2 separate regions of the Homo sapiens genome follow, and region 2 is linked to region 1. The links come from fine-mapping of genetic effects on gene expression. Tissue or cell type: cerebellum. Region 1 holds a variant in brackets; the other region holds the start of a gene. All regions are shown on one strand. Distances are from middle to middle.

Evidence for each region. PIP is the estimated chance that this variant, and not a neighbour inherited with it, causes the effect.
Region 2: it holds the start of ZNF197, and the variant in region 1 is fine-mapped to the expression of ZNF197 in cerebellum (GTEx, PIP 0.97).

The regions. Positions count from the first base shown.
Region 1 is chr3:45,399,061-45,404,660 of GRCh38, forward strand. LARS2 (leucyl-tRNA synthetase 2, mitochondrial) reads left to right here. Exons shown (of 22, transcript NM_015340.4): 4 at 1,185-1,313. Among named protein-coding and RNA genes, the nearest start is that of LARS2, 13 kb to the left of the region's middle. The variant G/A (reference allele first, on the strand shown) is at 2,512.
Region 2 is chr3:44,621,739-44,627,338 of GRCh38, forward strand. ZNF197 (zinc finger protein 197) reads left to right here and starts at 3,298. Exons shown (of 6, transcript NM_006991.5): 1 at 3,298-3,405. The region is part of intron 2 of ZNF660-ZNF197 (ZNF660-ZNF197 readthrough); the gene reads left to right. All of the region lies in intron 2 of ZKSCAN7-AS1 (ZKSCAN7 ZNF cluster antisense RNA 1), which reads right to left. It overlaps ZNF197-AS1 (ZNF197 antisense RNA 1), which reads right to left and starts at 3,059. Exons shown (of 2, transcript NR_046658.1): 1 at 2,984-3,059. RefSeq lists a silencer at 3,302-3,651 and an enhancer at 3,631-4,133.

The sequences.
Region 1 (5,600 bases):
GTTTCTCATGATGAAGCTGCTTCTTTGGAAGCTGGAGAGTTATATAACCCTGGTCTGAGGCTGCTTATTTATCATCCCTGGAGAACAACAACCTTCTCCCTTTTTAAAAGGATCTTCTCATTACCTTCCCATTTCAACATTTTTGTTGAAAGATAGGCTCTCAATACAATGGGGAAACTCAGGACCCAAATTGGTACTTTAGGATCCTGTTATTACTGCTAAACCTACGTCAGAATGCAGCTATAGAGAATTTAGGAAGAGACTCCATTTTTAGAGATGTTACATCTATGTGATTCAACTATTGCTTCTTTGAATTATATGGATATATGTATGTTAGAGCTTCCTTCGGAAAAACAAACAGTTCTTTAAGGACCTAGATAGAAGCTGTCTTAAAAGAGAAGTGTTTTTTTGTTTTGTTTTGTTTTGTTTTGTTTTTTTAATGGAGTAGCCATTCTTTTATCCCTTTACTTTCCTAATAATCTTGCTTTCGCTTTCTTCTACAGACTGGCGCTGAATTCTTTCTTGCGTGAGATCCAAGAACCCTCTCTTCGGGTCTGCATTGGGACCGCTTTTCTTTCTTTCTTTTTTTTTTCCATAGGTTTTTGGGGTACAGGTGGTATTTGGTTACATGAGTAAGTTATTTAGTGGTGATTTGTGAGATTTTGGTGCACCCCTCACCCGAGCAGTATAGGCTGTACTCTATTTGTAGTCTTTTATCCTTCACCCCCCTTTCCACCCTTCCCCCAAAGTCCCCAAAGTCCATTGTATCATTCTTATGCCTCATAGCTTAGCTCCCACATATCAGTGAGAACATAAGATGTTTGGTTTTCCATTCCTGAGTTACTTCATTTAGAATAATAGTCTCCAATCTCACCCAGGTCACTGCAAATACTGTTAATTCATTCCTTTCAAAAAATAAGTTTTTAAAAGAGAAAAAAAAAAGATATATGGGTACTTAACACTTAGAGGTTGTTTGGCATTATTTTGGACATTCTTTAGCTTAAACCAGGGCTTTGAATTTTGCTTTTTGACATTTTAATTGATTTACATTCTGGGAACACTCTTTTTAAAAGGAAACTTTTAAAATGTTAAATTATTACTTTGTGTAAAATGCCAAAATATTATGTATACATGCAGAGTTCCCAGAAAATGCTTAATAAATACTCATTGTCGTTCTTTCCTAGAAATCGAAGCCAAAATTTTACGTGCTTTCCATGTTCCCTTATCCTTCTGGTAAGCTGCACATGGGCCATGTGCGTGTCTACACCATCAGCGACACCATAGCACGGTTCCAGAAGATGAGAGGGATGCAGGTAAGAACAGGTGCCTGCTGGAGCAGCCCTTGTCTGCCACACGCAGGGTTGGCATGTAGTAATATGTGTTCAAGACAAATGAAGAAAACCAACTTTAGTTAAGATTAGGACAGCTTTGAAGATGGACATGAAAAGCTCAGTGTTTCCTTTTATGGATTAGATGATATTATAATAAAGCATCTAGGTTAATTGGGGGGCAGCCATGAGTTGGGTGTTGTGCTGGGGTGGAGATCAGATGGGAATGGGGTGAAAGGTAGATACAAATGTGGATAACACTGATAATCTTCCCAGGAGATACTCACCCATGAGTAGAGAATCATTGTATATAACGAACTGAGGTCAACAGTACAAATACACATCAGTGCTATGAGTGGCAGGTGAGACTGCAAGATATTTCTTTCTGTTCTATTTGATATTTTCCATATTCTTTGAGCATGTATTTCTTTTCTTTTTTTTTTGAGGCGGAGTCTTGCTCTGTCGCCCAGGCTGGAGTGCAGTGACGCAGTCTCGGCTCACTGCAACCTCCCCCTCCCGGGTTCACGCCATTCTCCTGCCTCAGCCTCCCGAGTAGCTGGGACTACAGGTGCCCACCACCACGCCTGGCTAATTTTTTGTATTTTTAGTAGAGACGGTTTCACTGTGTTAGCCAGGATGGTCTTGATTTCCTGGCCTCGTGATCCGCCCACCTTGGCCTCCCAAAGTGCTGTGATTACAGGTGTGAGCCACCATGCCCGGCAGAGCATGTATTTATTTTCTAATGGAAAAAAATAATTTTTTTAAGAAAAGATATTTGGGGAGTAACAACTCTGGGGAGTTGGGGAAAGTGCCACTAAAGAAGGAACATCTGGTCTGGGCACCTGGCTCATGCCTGTAATTCCAGTGCTTTGGGAGGCCCAGGCAGGAGGATTACTTGAGCCCAGGAGTTCGAGACCAGCCTGAGCAATGTAGCAAAACCCTGTCTCCACAAAAAATACAAAAAATTAGCTCAGTGTGGTGGCACACACCTGTAGTCCCAGCTACTCAGGAGGCTGAGGTGGGAGAATCACATGAACCTGGGAGGTCAAGGCTGCAGTGAGTTGTAATTGTGTCACTACACTCCAGCCTGGGCAACAGAGTGAGACACTATCTTAAAAAAAAAAGAATCTGATATGGGCCTTGAAGAATGAGGTGAAATTTATTGTGAGAGAGGAGGACAAAC[G/A]CCCTTCCTTGGCTGATGTGGGCCATTCCTCTTTACCCCCCGCCTGCTTTTTAAAAAAATTTTTTTGAGACAGGGTCTCATTTTGTCACCCCGGCTGGAGTGCTGTGGTTGCAATCACAGTTCATTGCAGCCTCGACCTCCCAGGCTCAACTTCCGACTCTGTCTCCCAAGTAGCTGGGACTATAGGTGTGTGCCACCACGCTCAGCTAATTTTTTGTAATTTTTGTAGAGACAGGGTTTCACCATGTTGTTCAGGCATGTCTTGAACCCCTGGGCTCAAGCAATCCACCCACCTCAGCCTCCCAAGGTGCTAGGATTATAGATATGAGCTACCGCACCTAGCCCAGAGCCTAATCTTTACTAGCAATCTTTAGCAACACATCATCTTTAAGATGGGTGTTGGATAATCATAATATCTTCTTTATCCACCTACGAAATATGGCAGTATTCAAGAAGGGCTGAGAGCATGGCCCATTGAACCAAACTGCCAGGATTCAAATTCCAGCTCTTAATACTTACAAGCTGTGTGGCCTTTGAGTAGTTAATTAATTAACCTCTTCAACACCTTGTTTTCTCTCATCTATAAAATAGGGATAAAATAGTACCTGCCCCATTGGCCTGTTAAAAGGATTCAAAGAGGATGACTATGAAGCACTTAGATACCTAACACACAGTATGTAACCAATAAGTATTAGCAATTGCCAGCAGTGGACAGGAACCTGCACACACCAGCACCTGAGAGCCAACTATGTATATCTCTGCCCAATGTTGTGTTTATTAGTCACCTTGGCAGCTTGAAATCTGCCATTGAGGGAGTATTTACGTCATGGTAATCAGCAAACCTACAAATCATGGCCTTTTCCTCCAGAGAGCCAATTGTTAATTAAACATTTACTGGAACCCCAGTGGCCATTGCTACTATGAACCTGTCAGGGCCTATACAAATGATATCTGCTGCCTCTCAGTTCTTTCTATTTTATTTTAGCAAGGTAAGTACATCCATTGTCATAACTGGTTTGAAATTTTATGCTGAGCTGACATTGGCTGCAAGAAGTATTCCTAAAAGAGGGTCACGTTGTAATGTCTTTGTCACTTGAAGAGTTAAATAACTTTATACTACCAAATTCAGAGATTTGTGTTCCACTTTAAGATGGCTGAGGGTGTTTGTCTCTCTGGTTTTTGTCAGATGTTATTTTTCCCAGATAACTGTTTTTCATTATTTCTGCTATGTTTATTAGAAAGAGGTGGGACAGGCCAGGCATGGTGGCTCATGCCTGTAATCCCAGCACTTTGGGAGGCCGAAGTGGGCAGATCACCTGAGGTCGGGAGGTCAAGACCAGCCTGACCAACATGGAGAAACCCCATCTCTACTAAAAATACAAAATTAGCCAGGCATGGTGGCCCGTGCTTGTAATCTGAGCTACTCGGGAGGCTGAGGCAGGAGAATTGCTTGAACCCGGGAGGCAGAGGTTGCAGTGAGCCAAGATCATGCCATTGCACTCCAGCCTGGGCAACAAGAGCGAAACTCCGTCTCCAAAGACAAAAAAAAAAAAAAAAAAAGAAAGATGTGGGACAGAATGAATTGGCTCTTTGCCTAAAGATAAAGATAAAGACAATTCTTTATCTCACTGTGATAAAGAATCTAGTTGTGATTCTTTAATTAGATTTGTCTAAATTTTTTTTAACTTAGGCCAACTTATTTCGGACAATTAGTGAGTGCAGGCAAATTGCCTACAATTAAGCTTTTTTTTGTTTGTTTTTTGAGGCGGATCTTCGCTCTTGTTGCCCAGGCTGGAGTGCAATGGTGCGATCTCAGCTCACTGCAACCTCTGCCTCCTGGGTTCAAGCAATTCTCCTGCCTCAGCCTTCCAAGTAGCTGAGATTACAGGCACCCACCACCACACTCAGCTAATTTTTGTATTTAATTAGAGACGGGGTTTCACCATGTTGGTCAGGCTGGTCTCGAACTCCTGACCTCAGATGATCCGCCCGCCTTGGGACAGTTAAGCTTTTATAGCAACTGTACATTTATGATAGGGTGCAGGGAAGCCTGTTAGCAAAACAGGTGGTTGAGGGGCTTGTAGGTGGGATTCTAATTTCCTTGGATGGGATGAGATGTTACAGAGGAGGCTCAAGGCAGAGCTCCAGGCCCAAAGGAACTGGTACCCTTGCAGGCAGCTCAGGCCCAAAAGACAAGGAGTCCTCCTACCATATCTGAAGCCTAAGGTCAGGCTAGACCCAGAAATTGAACAACCTAGATTTGAACCTACCACTTTCTAGCCAAGCGACTCTACAGAGTCATTTAATGTCCCTGTATCCCACTTTCTTAATCTTTAACATAGGGATAACAATACTTTATTCCTCACAGGGTTATGAGGATTAGATGAGATAGTGCTTGTATCTGGCACATAATAATCCCATAATAAGTGACAGCTGTAATTATTATTTATACTGATCTTATTCCTCAGAGCTGCTTAGGAAGGTGATTCGTCACCATTTAATAAATGAATCTTGTAATTCATATTATCCATCCTGTGGCTTGATTTGCTTATGGTTGAAACCACTATTTGTTATTTGGTTGATGGTTTCTTAGTCTGTGTGATCAGCAGATACCTAAGGTTGTCTTTTTGTTTCACAGTTTCAGTTGCTGTGTTTAAGATAGCAAGCCCTCTTTTCAGGGTGTTCTCTAGGTTCTCCTGAAATTAATTTCTTATTAATTTTCATAGTTCATATTTAAGTCACAGCATCTCAGATACAACCACCAAATCTGGTGAAAACTTGTCTGGTCATTTTTAAGTGATGTGGGAAAAGAGAAACAAATCTTGGTTTCATTGTCAGTGATGTGAAAGAAAGTCTGTTGAGCTTCCTTGTCATTTTAAAATCTTTCCTGCCCAGTGTCAGGATTGGTCCCTGAGATTGAATAAACTTGGACTCAAGTTTAACGATCCTCACTCTAAGCAGGGAAGGAATATCTAATCTGGGCCTGCCAAACAGGGTCTGCCACATGTATTGATTAATTTAGTCAGTAAGTAATCATTGAGCACCAGCTCTATTCTTGAATGGAGATATATGAAATAGTTCTAAGGCAC
Region 2 (5,600 bases), 780 kb before region 1:
TAGCAGTGCGAGAACAGACTAACACATTTGGATTCCGACTAGGACTCAGACTGGAAGTTACACCAGCAGCTTTTCTGCTTCTTAGGCCTATAGATCTTGGACTACAACTATACCTTCAGCTCTCCTGGGTCTTCAGATTGCATGTCTTGAGATTTCTTAGCCATATATATTATATACATATAATCCTTGGTCATAGGTCAATCACATTCCAATTTGCATTAAAAACAACTCTGGCAAAGTGGGGTTTTATAGAAAGATGAGAAATACAAACTTTCCATTCAGACCGGGATTTCCATTTTAGTTGATCAGTAGTCTAAGATCTTAACCCATCTTGAAATGTCAGTCCTGTGCTTCCAGCCTCTTCTCATATGCCTATCTCAAACTCATTTATTTCTTGTTTGCTTAGTTTTTTTCACCAGTACATTTGGGGATTTTAAATACCAGGAATGTGTGTGTATGTAAAACAAAGGCTATGTGTTGTATTATACCACTGTCCCAGAGCTCTGGCCCACTTTAAACAGGTTTTGTATAGTTCCACCTTGGTCAAAGATAGGGTGTTCCTTTCCTATCACCATCATTCCACAAGGTTACCAAGTCTTTCATCTTGGGACAGTGGTGAGGGTGCTTCAAGTTCTTTGTCAGATGGGCAGAATCTCAGGGCACAAACTGAGTGACAAAACTGAGGCTCTGGGCTGGCCACTGGCAACTGGTGGTTCTTACCAGCTGACAACTCTTTGGTTACATGCTTCCGGGCCATTGCTTAGTAGGAGTGTGAATGATTACAGGCTCACTGGTCAGTGGTCCATAGTCTAGTTGGTCATTTTGGCTCCTCCCATTCCTTTCTTCTTTCCCAGCAAGGCAAGAATGTTTTTCACCTTACTAAAGGCTTCTAATGGCCTAACTCACTATCGTTTTTGTCACTTTTGTTTCCAGTCCCATAGTGTGTAACTCCTGTCTACCTAGGTAGGGCAGGGGAGGAGAAGGGAGCCTTGGTTTACAAGTAAAATTATAATTTAGTGTGGGGGGAACAGCAATCACATTGATCAATATTTCAAAATCTACTCATTCATACTTTGAGACCCATAAAGTACTATTTCCTTCTTCTCTTCCTACTTGATTGGCTGCTGCTTCTCAGTCTCCTTTGTTGGGTCCTCCTTACCCTTTTTTATGTCATCCAAAGGACCACCAGGATGGCTAGATAGTAGAAAAGAAAGTTGGCCGGCACAGTGGCTCACACCTGTAATCCTAGCACTTTGGAAGGCCGAGGCGGGTGGATTGCCTGAGCTCAGGAGTTTGAGACCAGCCTGGGCAACACGGTGAAACCCCATCTCTACTAAAATACAAAAAATTAGCCAGGCATGGTGGCGTGCGCTTGTAATCCCAGCTACTCAGGAATCTGAGACAGGAGAATCATTTGAACCCGGGAGGCGGAGGTTGCAGTGAGCGAGATCGCGCCACTGCACTCCAGCCTGGGCGACAGAGTGAGACTCCATCTCAAAAAAAAAAAAAAAAAAAAGAAAGAAAGAAAGAAAAGAAAGTTTTATTCACAACATCAGTTTACAAACTCGGAGAGATAGTCTCTGGCTTGAACTGAAAGTGGTGCTCTCTCTGAAGAACAAAGAGAAGGTTAGAGGTTTTACAAAAAGGAGGAATGTTACATATTGCTCTTTGAGAAAGTTCATTGGCAGTAGTAAGGGTGTGGGGAGCTGACAAGCTCCAGTTGGTGAGCAACTGCGGTGGGCAAAATTAGTCCTAGAGTTGCAGCAACTTATCTCAGAAGCTATAGATAAAACTGGTTTTGGCTTATAATAAGCAGTTTCAGCAGTCAAGCTTACAGAGAATAACATTCCTGGAGCAATGTTGTGTACCCTGAGTGCTTCCCCCAGCTAATTTCTCGACTTTCTTTTATTAGGTATGACAAAAATGACCCAATTCTTATGATCAGCTTTCACATTTCTTAGCATTTACCACCACCTGACACATTTTTATATTTGTTTTCTGTTTATCCCACTAGAAATGTAAGCCCCATGAGAACAGAGACTTTACCTCTTTATCTATGTCCCTAGTGCCCAGAACAGTATTTGGCATATGGCAAGTACTCAGTAGTTGAATGAATGAATGAATCAAGGCTGAAGTTTAAGTATGTTGTTTAATGAATGCCAGGAGAGAACATAAAGAAATAAACAGAATAAGCCTGGCACGGTGGCTCACGCCTGTGATTCCAACACTTTAGAAGGCCAAGGTGGGGGTGGATCACCTGAGGTCAGGAGTTCAAGACCAGCCTGGCCAACATTGTGAAACCCCGTCTCTACTAAAAAAAAAAAAAAAAAAAAAAAATAGCCAGGCATGGTGGCACGTGCCTGTAATCCCAGCTGCTCAGGAGGCTGAGGCAGAAGAATCGCTTGAACCCGGGAGGTGGAGATTGCAGTGAGCCAAGATTGCGCCACTGCACTCCAGCCTGGGCAACAAGAGCAAAACTCCATCTCAAAAAAAAAAAAAAGACATAAACAGAATAACATGAACCTTGCTCATTGAATAAACATTCATCTACAACCTATATGGCTTCAGCTTTGTACTAGGTGCTAAATACATGGGATCCATGCAGACATGGCCTTTGCCCTTTTGGAGACTTGTTTCAGCCATAGTCCCATATAGGGGTGTCAGTTCCAGAAGTCCAAACTTAAGAGACTGAAGACCAAAGAGAGGATCAGAGTGCCAGTTTCCTTTATATACACCTGACTTTACCCAGGGCGATGGACAGCTAGAATAACCTCTTCTTTCAGGGGAGAGATGTCCCTACCATTTGCACATTACCTTGCACCATCAACTTGATTATTATTTAATATCATAGCTCCAATATGTCATCATGTGGGCAAGAGATACACCACAGTAAGCGAATTCACAAGAGGGTGATTTATAAGTCATGTTATTATTTATAGTGAGAATTGCATAAGTTCAAGAAGAGACCAGAAAAGTCACCTACCAGGTCATTCAGACGTGAAGGTCACTCCCTATCAACCTCAATTGAAATGCAAATCAAAATAGAAATGTCCAACTCTCTTAGGAGGCAACAGGCATCCTGAGACCCTGGGTCCTGTCTTTCATCTCTGCACCCTTCCGGTCTGAAACAGCGGCCAGTTCTTGTTCGATGTAAGGAACACTAGTACCCAAGGGCTCAGGAGTTCCGCCTCTCTTCCCCAGTTCTGGGAAAAGAAACGAACCATAGAGATGTGGCTTCCTAGAGATCCGGGATGAGGGGCGGGGTGCAACCGGAAGTCGCAGTATTCTCGGCTCGGCCATTATTCTGTGCCTCGGCTGCCGGAAGGGCTCGTTCCTGTGTCATCTCCTAGCGGCCTGGCGCCGAGGCGGCGGTACGCAAGGCTGGAGCCGCAGCGGGAGCCCCCGGTGAGCGGGGTGGGCTCGGGGGCGGGTGGGCGTGCAGGGAAGGCGGCCCGGGACGCGGGCCTGAGCTTGCTGGGACTGCACAGCCCTCGGTAGCCTCTCCCGGGCCCTGACCCCCGGCATGGTCCGTCGCCAGCTTCGTGTTGGGGTTCGACGTCGTGGCCTCGGCTGGGCAGGCAGCCGGCCCGAGGGAAGTACTGAGGACAGCAGCTCCGAGTCTGTGTGTGTTTGTGGACCGGTGCTCCTGTCTAACGGACTCTGCTGGCGCTTTGAGAAGAGCTGCCTCAGTAGCCTGCTCCCCCAGCTCAGGCCTTTCTGCTCTTCCTCAGTCTTGTCTGAGGCTAATCCACAGAAACATTCTGAGGTTTCCCTATTACCGGTGGCGCCCAGACTCTTGAGGACGGATTTTTTTGTTTGTTTGTTTTAAGGGGTGGAACGATTTTAGCTTTTTTAGTCTTTTAGTTTTGTAATATAATGGTATTTAAAAATCAAACTTGAAAAACTCAAACTTGAAACCACCCATACCAACATTACTTCAGGCAATACATTTTAACACAAAGTACTAAGACCGTAAACTCAGAATAAATGCTGGCCTTTGCGCGCGCGCGCGCACACACACACACACACACACACACACACACACACACTCATTGCCAACCTGTCAGCGACGATTGTTACTGGTTTTCTCTTTTTGCAGCTTACCAGATTAAAGCTTTGTCGTGGACTGGTGTTTGGAAACTGTTGTTTTAGAACAGTTTGGGTTGTTTGGGTTTCATAAGTTTCTTCGTAGATGGAATTGTTTTGGACTTCTGGAATTAGAATCCCTGAATTCAGAATTTGCTCCCATGTCTCAGTTAGCTAAGTGGCCTTGAGTGGATTCGCTCCTCTGATCCTTTTGTTTTTTTTAACTTCTGCTTTGAAAACCTTTTGTGAGAAGCTAATAAAATGTATGTTTAAGAATTTGTTATTTTTATGTTATTTGAAAATTATTCAAAATTCTTTTTAAAAATTCCTTTCCATCACCCCCAGATCAGTTACCAAGGACTACCAAGTTTTTCTCAATTGCCTTATCCCTACTTCGTTTAGAACTTAAGTCATGTGTTTAGACTATTAGAAAAACCTAACTGACCTTTCTTGATATCCAGCCCTCCCACCCCCACCATTTCTCACTAATAGAGTCCTGACACCACTTAAGACTCTCTTCATGCTCAGAGTGAAAAAGGTCTTTCTAATTGTGGTACAGTACCCAGAAGTCGTAAAAGATTGACTGCATGGCAAAAAACACTTTAAGCAAAGTCACATGGCATATATAGTCACAAAGACACTTGACAAACTGAGAAAAATTTGCAGCTGCCATTGTAAACAAAGGACTAATTTTCCTGTGATAAAAGTGTGTACAAATTAACAAGACCCAACACCTCAATGGAAACATGGGCAAAATATATGAATAGTTACTTTAAAAAATATACAAATGACTCTATATTAATTCGTTCAAAATGCAAGTCAAAAATTTGGCGAAGAGCACAAACTTTGAGAAACATATTGGTGAAAGTGAGGAAAGGCACTCCCATACAGCTGTTTCTGATGGGAGTATAAATTATAAATTGGTTCAATCCTAGTGAGGTCAAATTGGCAATATCAAAATTATACATGTATATACCTTTTAACTCAGCAATTCTGATTCAAGGAATTTTTCTTATATATGCCTACACACATCCAAACTGATGTATGCCCAAGATTATTCATGATTATATTGTTGGTAATAAGAAATGATTGAAAACTACCCAAACATTCCATCAGTGCTGGCATGAATAAATTATGATACATCTATGCATCCATAAAAATGCGGAGAGGGGCTGTGTATTGACAGGAAAGATCTCTAAGACATATTATTGAGAAGAGGAAAATGTACCACGTCATTCATGGTGTCCTACCATTTGTGAAAAAAAGGGAACTAGAAAACAATATATGTACACACATATGCAGAAATAACTGGAAAGATAGATAAGAAGCTAACGGAGAAGGAAACTTTACACAGTATACATTTTATAATTTTAAATTTTGAACCAAGTGAATATATTACTATTTTTAAAAATAAGGAAAAATGTAAAGTAAAGCCTCTTTAATGCTGAAATGTAAGTAAAATCACTTCACTTACAGGACAGGATCATCTCCTCAGAATACTGCCTCTCAAGAGC